Regions from separate parts of the Homo sapiens genome. Here region 1 is linked to region 2. The links come from fine-mapping of genetic effects on gene expression. A gene starts in region 2. The other region holds a variant in brackets. All regions are shown on one strand. Distances are between the middles of the regions. Region 1 overlaps GPN2 (GPN-loop GTPase 2). Region 2 holds the start of SFN (stratifin).

Region 1 (5,372 bases), 21 kb after region 2:
CAACTTTGAACCCCTATGCCTTTGCATGTTCTCTTAACTTGAATTCCCTTTTCTTCTTCATTAGACTGGCTAACCCTCACCTTGAAATGACACAACTCACGTGTCATGCCTCCATAAAGCTTTCCTTACCCACCTACCCTTCAGCAAAGCTGACCACTCCCTTATTTGTATCAGTCCCTACTCTCTTACAGAGAGCTGCTGAATCTTAAGGGGGTTAGGGTCAGGGCAGAATCTAAAATCAGCACAAATGTATATGGTTAAAAATACTCTTTAAAATTCCTCAAATTATTTGTTAAATGCAGCATACATGGTTTTGTGAATAGAATCCTTTATATATACGAATACATAAAGTAACGTACAGATGCTCCTTGACTTATGATGGGGTTACATCCTGATAAACCCATCCTAAATCAAAAATATCTTAAGTCGAAAATGCATTTAATACACATAACCTACCACACATCATAGCTTAGTTTCGCCTACCTTAAATATTCTTAGAACACTTACGTTAGCTGCATTTGGGCAAAATTATCTAACACAAAGCCTATTTTACAATAAAGTATTGAATATCTCATGTAATTTATTGAATACTGTACTGAAAGTGAAAGAATGATTGATAGGTACCCAAAGTATGATTTCTACTGAATGCATATAGCTTTCACACCATCATAAAGTTGAGCCATCATAAGTTGGGAACCATCTGTACGGTGTACAAAATACTACATTATTTAAATTGCTTCTCCCAGCCTAGGCTGTATGGTGAAACCCCATCTCTACAAAAATTAGCTGGCCACAGTGGCACACGCCCATAGTCCTAGCTATTCAGGAGGCTGAAGTGGGAGGATCACTTGAGCCCAGGGAGGTCAAGGCTGCAGTGAGCTGAGATCACGCCACTGCACTCCAGCCTGGGCAACAGAGTGAGACTCTGCCTCACAAAATAAACAAACATAAACTGCCCTTCCCAGCTGGGGACGATGGCTCATGCCTGTGATCCCAGCACTTTGGGAGGCTGAGGTGGGAGGGTAACGAGCCCAGGAGTTCAAGGTCGCAGTGAGCTATGATTGCATCACTGCACTCCAGCCTGGGCAAAGGAGCAAGACCCTGCCTCTAAGAAATAAATATAAAAGTTGCAGGCCGGGCATGGTGGCTCACGCCTATAATCCCAGCACTTTGGGAGGCCAAGGCAGGTGGATCACCTGAGTTCAGGAGTTCGAAACCAGCCTGGCCAACATGGTAAAACGCTGTCTCTACTAAAAATACAAAAAATTAGCTGAGCGTGGTGGCGGGCGCCTATTATCCCACTTACTCGGGAGGCTGAGGCAGGAGAATTGCTTGAACGTGGGAGATGGAGGTTGCAGTGAGCTGAGATTGCACCATTGCACTCCAACTGGGGCAACAAGATTGACGGTCCGTCTCAAAAAAAAAAAAAAAAAAGGGCCAGGTGTGGTGGAGCATGCCTGTAATCCCAGCTACTTAGGAGGCTGAGGGAGGAGAATCACTTGAACCCTGGAGTTGGAGATTGCATTCCAGCCTGGGCAACAACAGCAAAAGAAAGTCCATCTTAAATTTAAAAAAAAAATTGCTCCTCCCCTCTTTTGCTGAGCACATGCAGTCCAATTGGCCTACATTAACTGCAGGTGTGACGCAGCTCCTTAGTACCTTCATCAGGGACTGCACACTCTACTGCCATCATTTATAAGTCATTCCTCCAACCCCGACCCCATGAGCTTTGTTTCCCACATATGGCTCGAGAAACATCAGTAAGTGTTGGCTGGAATTATTTTCCTCTATACCCTAAGACTCCTGAGTCCCCCTTGTCTCCAGCATGCTGCATAGATGCTGAATCTGTGAGAGCATCAGCCTAGAGGGCCTGGACTTTTCTGTCCTGCTTCACGCATGGCCTCTGTGACCTGATGGACACCTACCCATGACCTTGGCTCCAGCCTCATTAGTCACTAACCAAGCTCCAAAAGTCTGGCTGCCTCTTGGACAGCTCTGGATGTCCCATGGACCCCTGAACACAGCACATCTGCCAGCTCTTGTCCCTTTCATCCATGTGACAAACCTGCTCCCTCCTCCTTTTCCTGCCTCAGTGATTAGTACAACCACCCACCGTCTAAGCCAGAGATCTGGGAAGCTAAGTTCTACTCCAGCTCCATCTATCCCATTCAGTCACTGACTCTTACAGTCTATCTCCTTAGTATTTTTCCATTCTACACCTTTCTTTCTATTCTCACTACAAATCTTTCAACCCTTCTCACCTAGCAAGACTGTAAAACTCTTTTGCCCCCAATCACGTCCCTTAAATGCATTTTCCACAATTGCAGGGGCTTTTCTAAAATGTACATCTGATTGTGTCACACCCTGTTCAACAGTACTGCTTGAATACTTGCTCCCACTGCCCACCCATGAACTGAAGTCCACATTCCTTAGTAGGGCACTCAGGCCCCTCCCTCGGCAGCCCTGCCTGTACCCCTGCAACGCCCTTTCCTCTTCACATGCAACACACCAGGAACTGGACTCCTGCATCTCTCCCGAATGACTAATGCCCTCTCATTTCTGGGCCTCTGTATTTGTTACTCCTATTGATCAATATCCTCTCTTGTCCTCAGTACAACCAACTCTGAAGCCAAGGGACCACCTTTGCACATGAGAGACAGTCATCAGGAAGCCCAACTGATCAATATGAAATCAGTCATCCACGGCCGGGCGCAGTGGCTCATGCCTGTAATCCCAGCACTTTGGGAGGCTGAGGCAGGTGGATCACCTGAGGTCAAGAGTTCCAGACCAGCCTGGCCAACATGGTGAAACCCCGTCTCTACTAAAAATATAAAAACTAACTGGGCACAGTGGCGCACACTAATACCAGCTACTTGGGAGGCTGAGGCAGGAGAATTGCTTGAATATGGGAGGCAGAGGTTACACAGAGCCAAGATTGCGCCATTGTGCGATCCAGCCTGGGCAACAAGAGCGAAACTCCCTTTCAAAAAAAAAAAAGAAAAAAGAAATTGGGTGGATCACAAGGTCAGGAGATCAAGACCATCCTGGCCAACACAGTGAAACCCCGTCTCTACTAAAAATACAAAAAATTAGCTGGGCGTGGTGGTGGGTGGCTGTAGTCCCAGCTACTCAGGAGGCTGGGGCAGGAGAGTGGCGTGAACCCGGGAGGCAGAGCTTGCAGTGAGCTGAGATCGTGCCACTGCACTCCAGCCTGGGCGACAGAGCAAGACTCCATCTCAAAAAAAAAAAAAAAAAAAGAAATTGGTCATCCACAAGGTTGATGACTGCACCTCCTGTGGCCATTCTTGAGTCCCATGTCTCACCCTCTCTGCTATGGCCAGGAAGCTGGCAAGGATACGAAGAGAAATGGAAGTCGGCTCCCATTGCGGCAGACATCATGGCTTCCAAGCTTCGCTGCTCTTGGGCTC[T/C]GAAACAGTATCCATTGGCTTTATCCACAGCCTGCAGGACTCGCTGGATGCTCTCCTTGTCCTGAGCAGGGAGGAGAGAAACAGTTCTGTGAGTGAAACAGAAGTATGTAAAACTGCTTGCAATCTCTAAATACACCTTCCTCCATCTTGCCTCTGTACCTGTAGCTTTCTTGGCCTGGAGTAGTTCTACATGTCCCCAAAGGCTGGATAAATCTCATGTTTCCTGACCACCAACTCACTCAGATTAGAACAGATAAGCTCCCCTATGCATATCCACAGTCCCCTGGGTTTACACCTATTGTACATGGTATCCCTGCCATGTAATAAACGCCTATTAACTCACCTGCCTCCCCTACTCAACTAAACACCCCTTAGGGCCAGGTCATCTGTCGCAGTATTCCCAGTGCCTGGCACAGTACTTCTCTTAAGTAGACATCCAATGAATATGCATGTTTTAAATCTATAACTGGGCCAGGCACGGTGGTTCACACCTGTAAAGCCCAGCACTTTGGGAGGCCAAGGCAGGTAGATCACTTAAGGTCAGGAGTTCAAGAGCAGCCTGGCCAACATGGTGAAACCCTGTCTCTACTGAAAATACAAAAATTAGTTGGGCATGGTGATGGATGCCTGTAATCCCAGTTACTTGGGAAGCTGAGGCAGGAGAATCGGTTGAACCCAGGAGGCAGAGGTTGCAGTGAGCCAAGATAACGCACTGCACTCCAGCCTGGGTGACAGAGTGAGACTCCGTCACAAAAAACAAAACAAAACAAAAAAAAACTATAACTGTTTCCTCATCCACATACAGTGATAAGAACAGTCCATATATCACATGGTGGGAAGGACAAAGCAAAATTATGTATGTGTAGTCCTTAGCACAGTGCCCAGCACAGAAAGCCATAAATAAGAGGTAATTGTTGTGATTGATATTATAGAGTTCATCTCCTCATATCAGAAGAGTGTGGCATTAGAAGGGAGGAGACAAGTTAGCTCAAGTCCACCCACTGCAGAAAGGAATCTAACATGCACCTGCGTCTCCCAGGTTATCTCTGCAGGGTAAAGGTGAGAGGCACAGGGGTTGGGTACCACTTTGCAAAGTCAACAGACAGTTGCCCAGTTGAAAGGGCTTAAGAGACTTGTCCCTGGTCCTGGTGAACTTTCTTGCTGATGACTTTCTGAACTCACCCATTTTCACAGAGGACAGAACATGTGAAGAGAGGATCCAGCAACACAAAATAGACAGGGCAAAAGTTTGGTCCACTCTCTTTACTGGAATTCTGCCCCTACAGCAGCCCCTGGTCCTGAAACTAAGGTTACTCTCAGTGATACTCAACCCAGGGCAAAGACCACTCTTTTTTTTTTTTTTTTTTTGAGATGGAGTCTCACTCTGTCGCCCAGGCTGGAGAGCAATGGCGTGGTCTCGGCTCACTGCAAGCTCTGCCTCACGGGTTCACGCCATTCTCCTGCCTCAGCCTCCTGAGTAGCTGGGACTACAGGCACCTGCTACCACGCCCAGCTAATTTTTTGTATTTTTAGTAGAGACGGGGTTTCACTGGGTTAGCCAGGATGGTCTCGATCTCCTGACCTCATGATCTGCCCACCTCGGCCTCCCAAAGTGCTAGGATTAGAGGCTTGAGCAACCGCGCCCAGCCGGCAAAGACCATTCTTTAAGCCCTCAAAGCTTCCTGTGCTTTTGGCTTGGTGAATCCCATGCACTGTCAAGAGTCCCGTCTTAGCCCCTAGTACCTGGATGTTGAGAGGGATAAAGGAGACAAGGCTATAGTCTTCGATGAGCTGCACTAGCTTCTCATTGAGCTGGCGGTAGTGGCGGAAGAAAGGGTCAGAAGCCAGGTGGTCAAGCAGGTAGGAGAGGTCCAGAACCTCTGTGTAGTAGTCCAGGTTGAAGGCTAAAGAGAGAAACCAGTGTTCAGGAGCAACCAGTATCAG
Region 2 (5,372 bases):
GGCTTGGGGTCCTTCCTCATTTCACAGAACCTAACTCTATGTTAGTGCTTTGTGAGTATATGTTGATCATAATAAAGTTGACGGGATTTTTTCACATGATAATAATAGTTGTCATCTGGCCGGGCATGGTGGCTTATGCCTATAATTTCAGCACTTTGGAAGGCTGAGGCAGGTGGATCACTTGAGGTCAGCTGTTCGAGACCAGCCTGGCCAACATGGTGAAACCACATCTCTACTTAAAAAAAAAAAAAATACAAAAATTAGCTGGGTGTGGTGGTGCACCCTTGTAATCCCAGCTACTCGGGAGGCTGAGGCAGGAGAATCACTTGAACCCAGGAGGTGGAGGTTGCAGTGAGCTGAGATTGTGCCACTACACTCCAGCCTGGGTGACAAGAGCGAAACTCCGTCTCAAAAAAAAGAAAATAATAATAATAATAGTTGCCATCCATTCTACTGTGCTTTCCATTAACTCGTGTAATCCTCACAAGTCCCATTTTATAGTTACAGGAACTGAGGCTCACAGAGCTTAAATCACTTGGCCAAGGCCACAAACAGCTATAAGAATTACATTTAGGCAGTCTGATTCCAAAGATACTAGTCTATTCTGTATCTCATAGACAAACAATACATATTCACTTTTTTGTTGTTGTTTTGTTTTGAGACGGAGTCTTGCTCTGTCACCCAGGCTGGAGTGCAGTGGCGCCATCTCGGCTCACTGCAAGCTCCGCCTCCCGGGTTCAAGCGATTCTCCTGCCTCAGCCTCCCGAGTAGCTGGGACTACAGGCATGTGCCACCATGCCCGGCTAATTTTTTGTATTTTTAGTAGAGACAGGGTTTTCCTGGGTTAGCCAGAATGGTCTCGATCTCCTGACCTTGTGATCCACCCACCTCAGCCTCCCAAAGTGCTGAGATGACAGGCGTGAGCCACCGCGTCCGACCTATATTCACTATTTATAAATTGGAGAGAATAAGAAAATCAAAAGGGCCAGGTGTAGTGACTCACACCTGTAATCCCAGCACTTTGGGAAGCCAAGGCAGGAGGATTGCTTGAACCCAGAAGTTCGAGACCAGCCTGGGCAACATGGTGAGACCCTGTCTCTACAAAAAAATACAAAAATTAGCTGGGCGTTGTGGTGAGCACCTTATTCTTAGGAAGCTGAGGCAGGAGGATCACCTGAGGCCAAGGAGGTTGAGACTGCAGTGAGCTGTGATCATACCACTGTACTTCAGCCTGGACATCAGAGTAAGACCCTATCTCTAAAAAGGAAATTGAGAAGAAAGAAAATCAAAGGGAAGCAAAATCACTCACTCTCACTACCTCAAGATACCCTCTAGAAGTTGGTATTTTAGTGTGGTTCCTATTGTTTTCTGTGTCAGTTCTCTGATTTGAGCAAAATCTTTGGGACGTCAAACTTAAAATCCCCTTTACTTCCTTGGAAACCCTGTAGCATTAGCCCAGACATGTCCCTACTCCTCCTTGTGGCAAAGAGAAGGATCTCGTCTTTGGTCCCCAGAGTTCTGGCCTAAGCCTCCCTCCAGGAGGGAAGATGAGTGTTCAGACACTCAGAGTAGCTGGGGGAGACACAGGCCTGTGAAATTATCCTGGCTCAACTATTAGGTCGGCAGAATCCCAGTGAAGGGAGCCCTACCTCTGAGCCCCATCTAAGCTTTGGCTATGGGTGGGGCAGATAAGCAGGAATCCATCCCTATAGGCTCAATGCCAACACCCTTAGGTGAAACTCTTGATGAAACTTGAGGCCAGGGCTCCGGCAAGCAGGGAAAGAACGTTGGCAACAGAGGTCTCCATCTCTGAGGACTCTGCCAGGGGTCAGAGATGGGGCAATGGTCAAAAGGAAGGAACAGGCCAGGCACAGTGGCTCATGCCCATAATCCCAGCACTTTGGGAGGCTGAGGCAGGAGGATCGCTTGAGCCCAGGAGTTTGAGACCTGCCTGGGCAATGTAGTGAGATCTGCTCTCTATTTAAAAAAAAAAAAAAGGAAAGAACAAGTAAACTTCTGAGAAACAGGCTGGGGGAGGCATCACGTAGCTGGAATTGCTGCCCCATAAAACAGAATGGTATGTGTCACTGCCACCTCCCTTTCTCAGTCCTCTCTCTCCCCAGGTTGCTAGCGTCCCCCCTGGGGGATCAAACTGGACTGCTTCCCAGCCTCAGACAGAGAGCAGTCTGAGTCAGGCAGGAAAGTGGGACAGCCGGGGAGCTGGACCCCACCCTCTGTGAGCCCCGCTGGTACCTGATGGCATGTGGCTTGGAGAGGGCAGGTGACCTGGCGTGGAGGGCCAGAGGGTAAATCCTCAAACAAGTGGCAACAGGCCACCAACTTGAAAGGGAAAATTGTGTAGTGATGGGAAATGTGTCCAACAAACCTACTGGGTGACTAATTACAAAGGCTGGGCTGGAGCTTCAGAGGCTGCTTGTTAAACACTTCATTAAGCGGCACTCTGAAAGCTGCCACCTGCGCATTCTGGGAGCTCAGAGGGGACCCTGAGGGGGAATGAGGCCTGGAGGATGGAACCATCTTCAGGTAGACTGAGAAGGAGCCTGGATCTCACTTCCAAACACAGTCTGGAGCTCATAGGTCAGAGGCCTCAATGGGAGAAAAGCTAAAGGAAGAGGGTGCAGAAAGGAGTTTCAGGGAATTGGTGGCTATGTGACTTTGAGCAAATCTCACCCCTCTCTGAGACTTAGTGTTCCCATCTCTATGGTCCTGTGTGTGTCACAGAGACATGGTGGGGATTAAATTCGATCGTGAATATGAAAGTGCTTGGGAAACTCCATGGCCCTACCTAAACATGAGTTATCCTCACCTGAACCAAGGGGGGAAGTTACCTGGCAGGATTAGGAACCCCATCCTCCTGAACCTTTATGGGCTCTGTCGAGGCTGAAGCAGCCAGGGGCTAAAGCCGTCCTTAGCCCCTGGAAGGGCACTGTGAAAGTGGATCTGATTTGAGAAGCCGTTTCCTGATGTGGGCAGCCATGTGATGCCAGCCCCGAACAAGAGGGGGCAGCCTGGAGCCTGGAAAGGTGCCAGTGCAGGTGGGGCCCACGCCCAGATTTCTCCTGCTGACTGTTCTGATGATTCACCCCCACATCCCAGCCTTTTTACCTTTACTGCAGAGCCGGAAAGGGTGTGGGGAAGAGAGGAGAGGGAGGCAGGTCTTGGGCCCTGGTCCCGCCCCCTGCTCCTCCCCACCCTTCTCTGGGCCTGGCCACCCAGCCAAAAGGCAGGCCAAGAGCAGGAGAGACACAGAGTCCGGCATTGGTCCCAGGCAGCAGTTAGCCCGCCGCCCGCCTGTGTGTCCCCAGAGCCATGGAGAGAGCCAGTCTGATCCAGAAGGCCAAGCTGGCAGAGCAGGCCGAACGCTATGAGGACATGGCAGCCTTCATGAAAGGCGCCGTGGAGAAGGGCGAGGAGCTCTCCTGCGAAGAGCGAAACCTGCTCTCAGTAGCCTATAAGAACGTGGTGGGCGGCCAGAGGGCTGCCTGGAGGGTGCTGTCCAGTATTGAGCAGAAAAGCAACGAGGAGGGCTCGGAGGAGAAGGGGCCCGAGGTGCGTGAGTACCGGGAGAAGGTGGAGACTGAGCTCCAGGGCGTGTGCGACACCGTGCTGGGCCTGCTGGACAGCCACCTCATCAAGGAGGCCGGGGACGCCGAGAGCCGGGTCTTCTACCTGAAGATGAAGGGTGACTACTACCGCTACCTGGCCGAGGTGGCCACCGGTGACGACAAGAAGCGCATCATTGACTCAGCCCGGTCAGCCTACCAGGAGGCCATGGACATCAGCAAGAAGGAGATGCCGCCCACCAACCCCATCCGCCTGGGCCTGGCCCTGAACTTTTCCGTCTTCCACTACGAGATCGCCAACAGCCCCGAGGAGGCCATCTCTCTGGCCAAGACCACTTTCGACGAGGCCATGGCTGATCTGCACACCCTCAGCGAGGACTCCTACAAAGACAGCACCCTCATCATGCAGCTGCTGCGAGACAACCTGACACTGTGGACGGCCGACAACGCCGGGGAAGAGGGGGGCGAGGCTCCCCAGGAGCCCCAGAGCTGAGTGTTGCCCGCCACCGCCCCGCCCTGCCCCCTCCAGTCCCCCACCCTGCCGAGAGGACTAGTATGGGGTGGGAGGCCCCACCCTTCTCCCCTAGGCGCTGTTCTTGCTCCAAAGGGCTCCGTGGAGAGGGACTGGCAGAGCTGAGGCCACCTGGGGCTGGGGATCCCACTCTTCTTGCAGCTGTTGAGCGCACCTAACCACTGGTCATGCCCCCACCCCTGCTCTCCGCACCCGCTTCCTCCCGACCCCAGGACCAGGCTACTTCTCCCCTCCTCTTGCCTCCCTCCTGCCCCTGCTGCCTCTGATCGTAGGAATTGAGGAGTGTCCCGCCTTGTGGCTGAGAACTGGACAGTGGCAGGGGCTGGAGATGGGTGTGTGTGTGTGTGTGTGTGTGTGTGTGTGTGTGCGCGCGCGCCAGTGCAAGACCGAGATTGAGGGAAAGCATGTCTGCTGGGTGTGACCATGTTTCCTCTCAATAAAGTTCCCCTGTGACACTCCTCCTGTCTCTCTTCCAGTTCTTGGCGATGGGCTGGGAGTGGGACTGGAATCTGACTTAGAGACCCTGACTTTGGACCTCTGAGTTAGGGCCCTGAACTCCCTAGGTGGCTCAGTGGCCCGCACGCAAGACTTTGAGTCCAGGTGAGGCCGGGGTCCGGCTCTCTCCATCACGGCGGCCCCAGTCAAACTGGACGGGACCGGGAGGGTCGGGTGAACCCACAGGAGGCGCCGTGGCTCCTCTGCCGGGCTGAGGGGAGGTGAGTGGGAGCCACGGCGCGGGAGGCTGACGAGCTCTGGTGGAGCGGGGCAGGAAATAGTGAAGTCTCCGGCGTGAGATCTAAGGACAGCGCCGCAGTAGTGAGCGGCACTGAGCACCCGATTTGCAGGCGGGTCACAGTTTCATCAAGGGCTCAGATCTCAGCGGAGGGGAGTACGATCTGAGGAAGGGGTATAGCGCCGCCAAAAAAGCCTAGATCTTAGGAGAGGGTCACGTCCCACAGAGTTCGGAGATGGAGACAAAAGGAAACGGGCTGAAGGGGAGGAAGGACGAGCTGGGTGGGAAGGGCCGCTGGGAGCTGTGCCTACCGAGCCCGCTGCCTGAGCTCTCTGCAGCCAGCAACACGCCGGAACCTGCAGCCGCCTTGCTCCGTCCCGCCTTCGCAGCCCTGGACTGGAGGCGGGGCCCGAGGCCAATACCGCCCAATCACAGGAGGGAGCTGCCCCAGGGTACCGCCCCGGGGGCCTGACTGGCCAATGGGAAAGTGAGCGGCGGAACGCGCGCGGCGAGTTTCCCGCCG

What was found. PIP is the estimated chance that this variant, and not a neighbour inherited with it, causes the effect. A credible set is the group of variants that fine-mapping cannot tell apart.
Region 1: its variant is the best candidate, but not a certain one, in a credible set for the expression of SFN in lung (TOPMed, PIP 0.59).

What each region holds. Positions count from the first base shown.
Region 1 is chr1:26,880,802-26,886,173 of GRCh38, forward strand. It overlaps GPN2 (GPN-loop GTPase 2), which reads right to left. Exons shown (of 5, transcript NM_018066.4): 3 at 5,172-5,332; 4 at 3,359-3,489. Among named protein-coding and RNA genes, the nearest start is that of GPN2, 6.8 kb to the right of the region's middle. The variant T/C (reference allele first, on the strand shown) is at 3,429.
Region 2 is chr1:26,859,883-26,865,254 of GRCh38, forward strand. It overlaps SFN (stratifin), which reads left to right and starts at 3,267. Exons shown (of 1, transcript NM_006142.5): 1 at 3,267-4,574. The coding sequence starts at 3,331. The coding sequence ends at 4,077. RefSeq lists a silencer at 2,933-3,082 and enhancers at 2,952-3,831, 4,976-5,105, 5,316-5,372.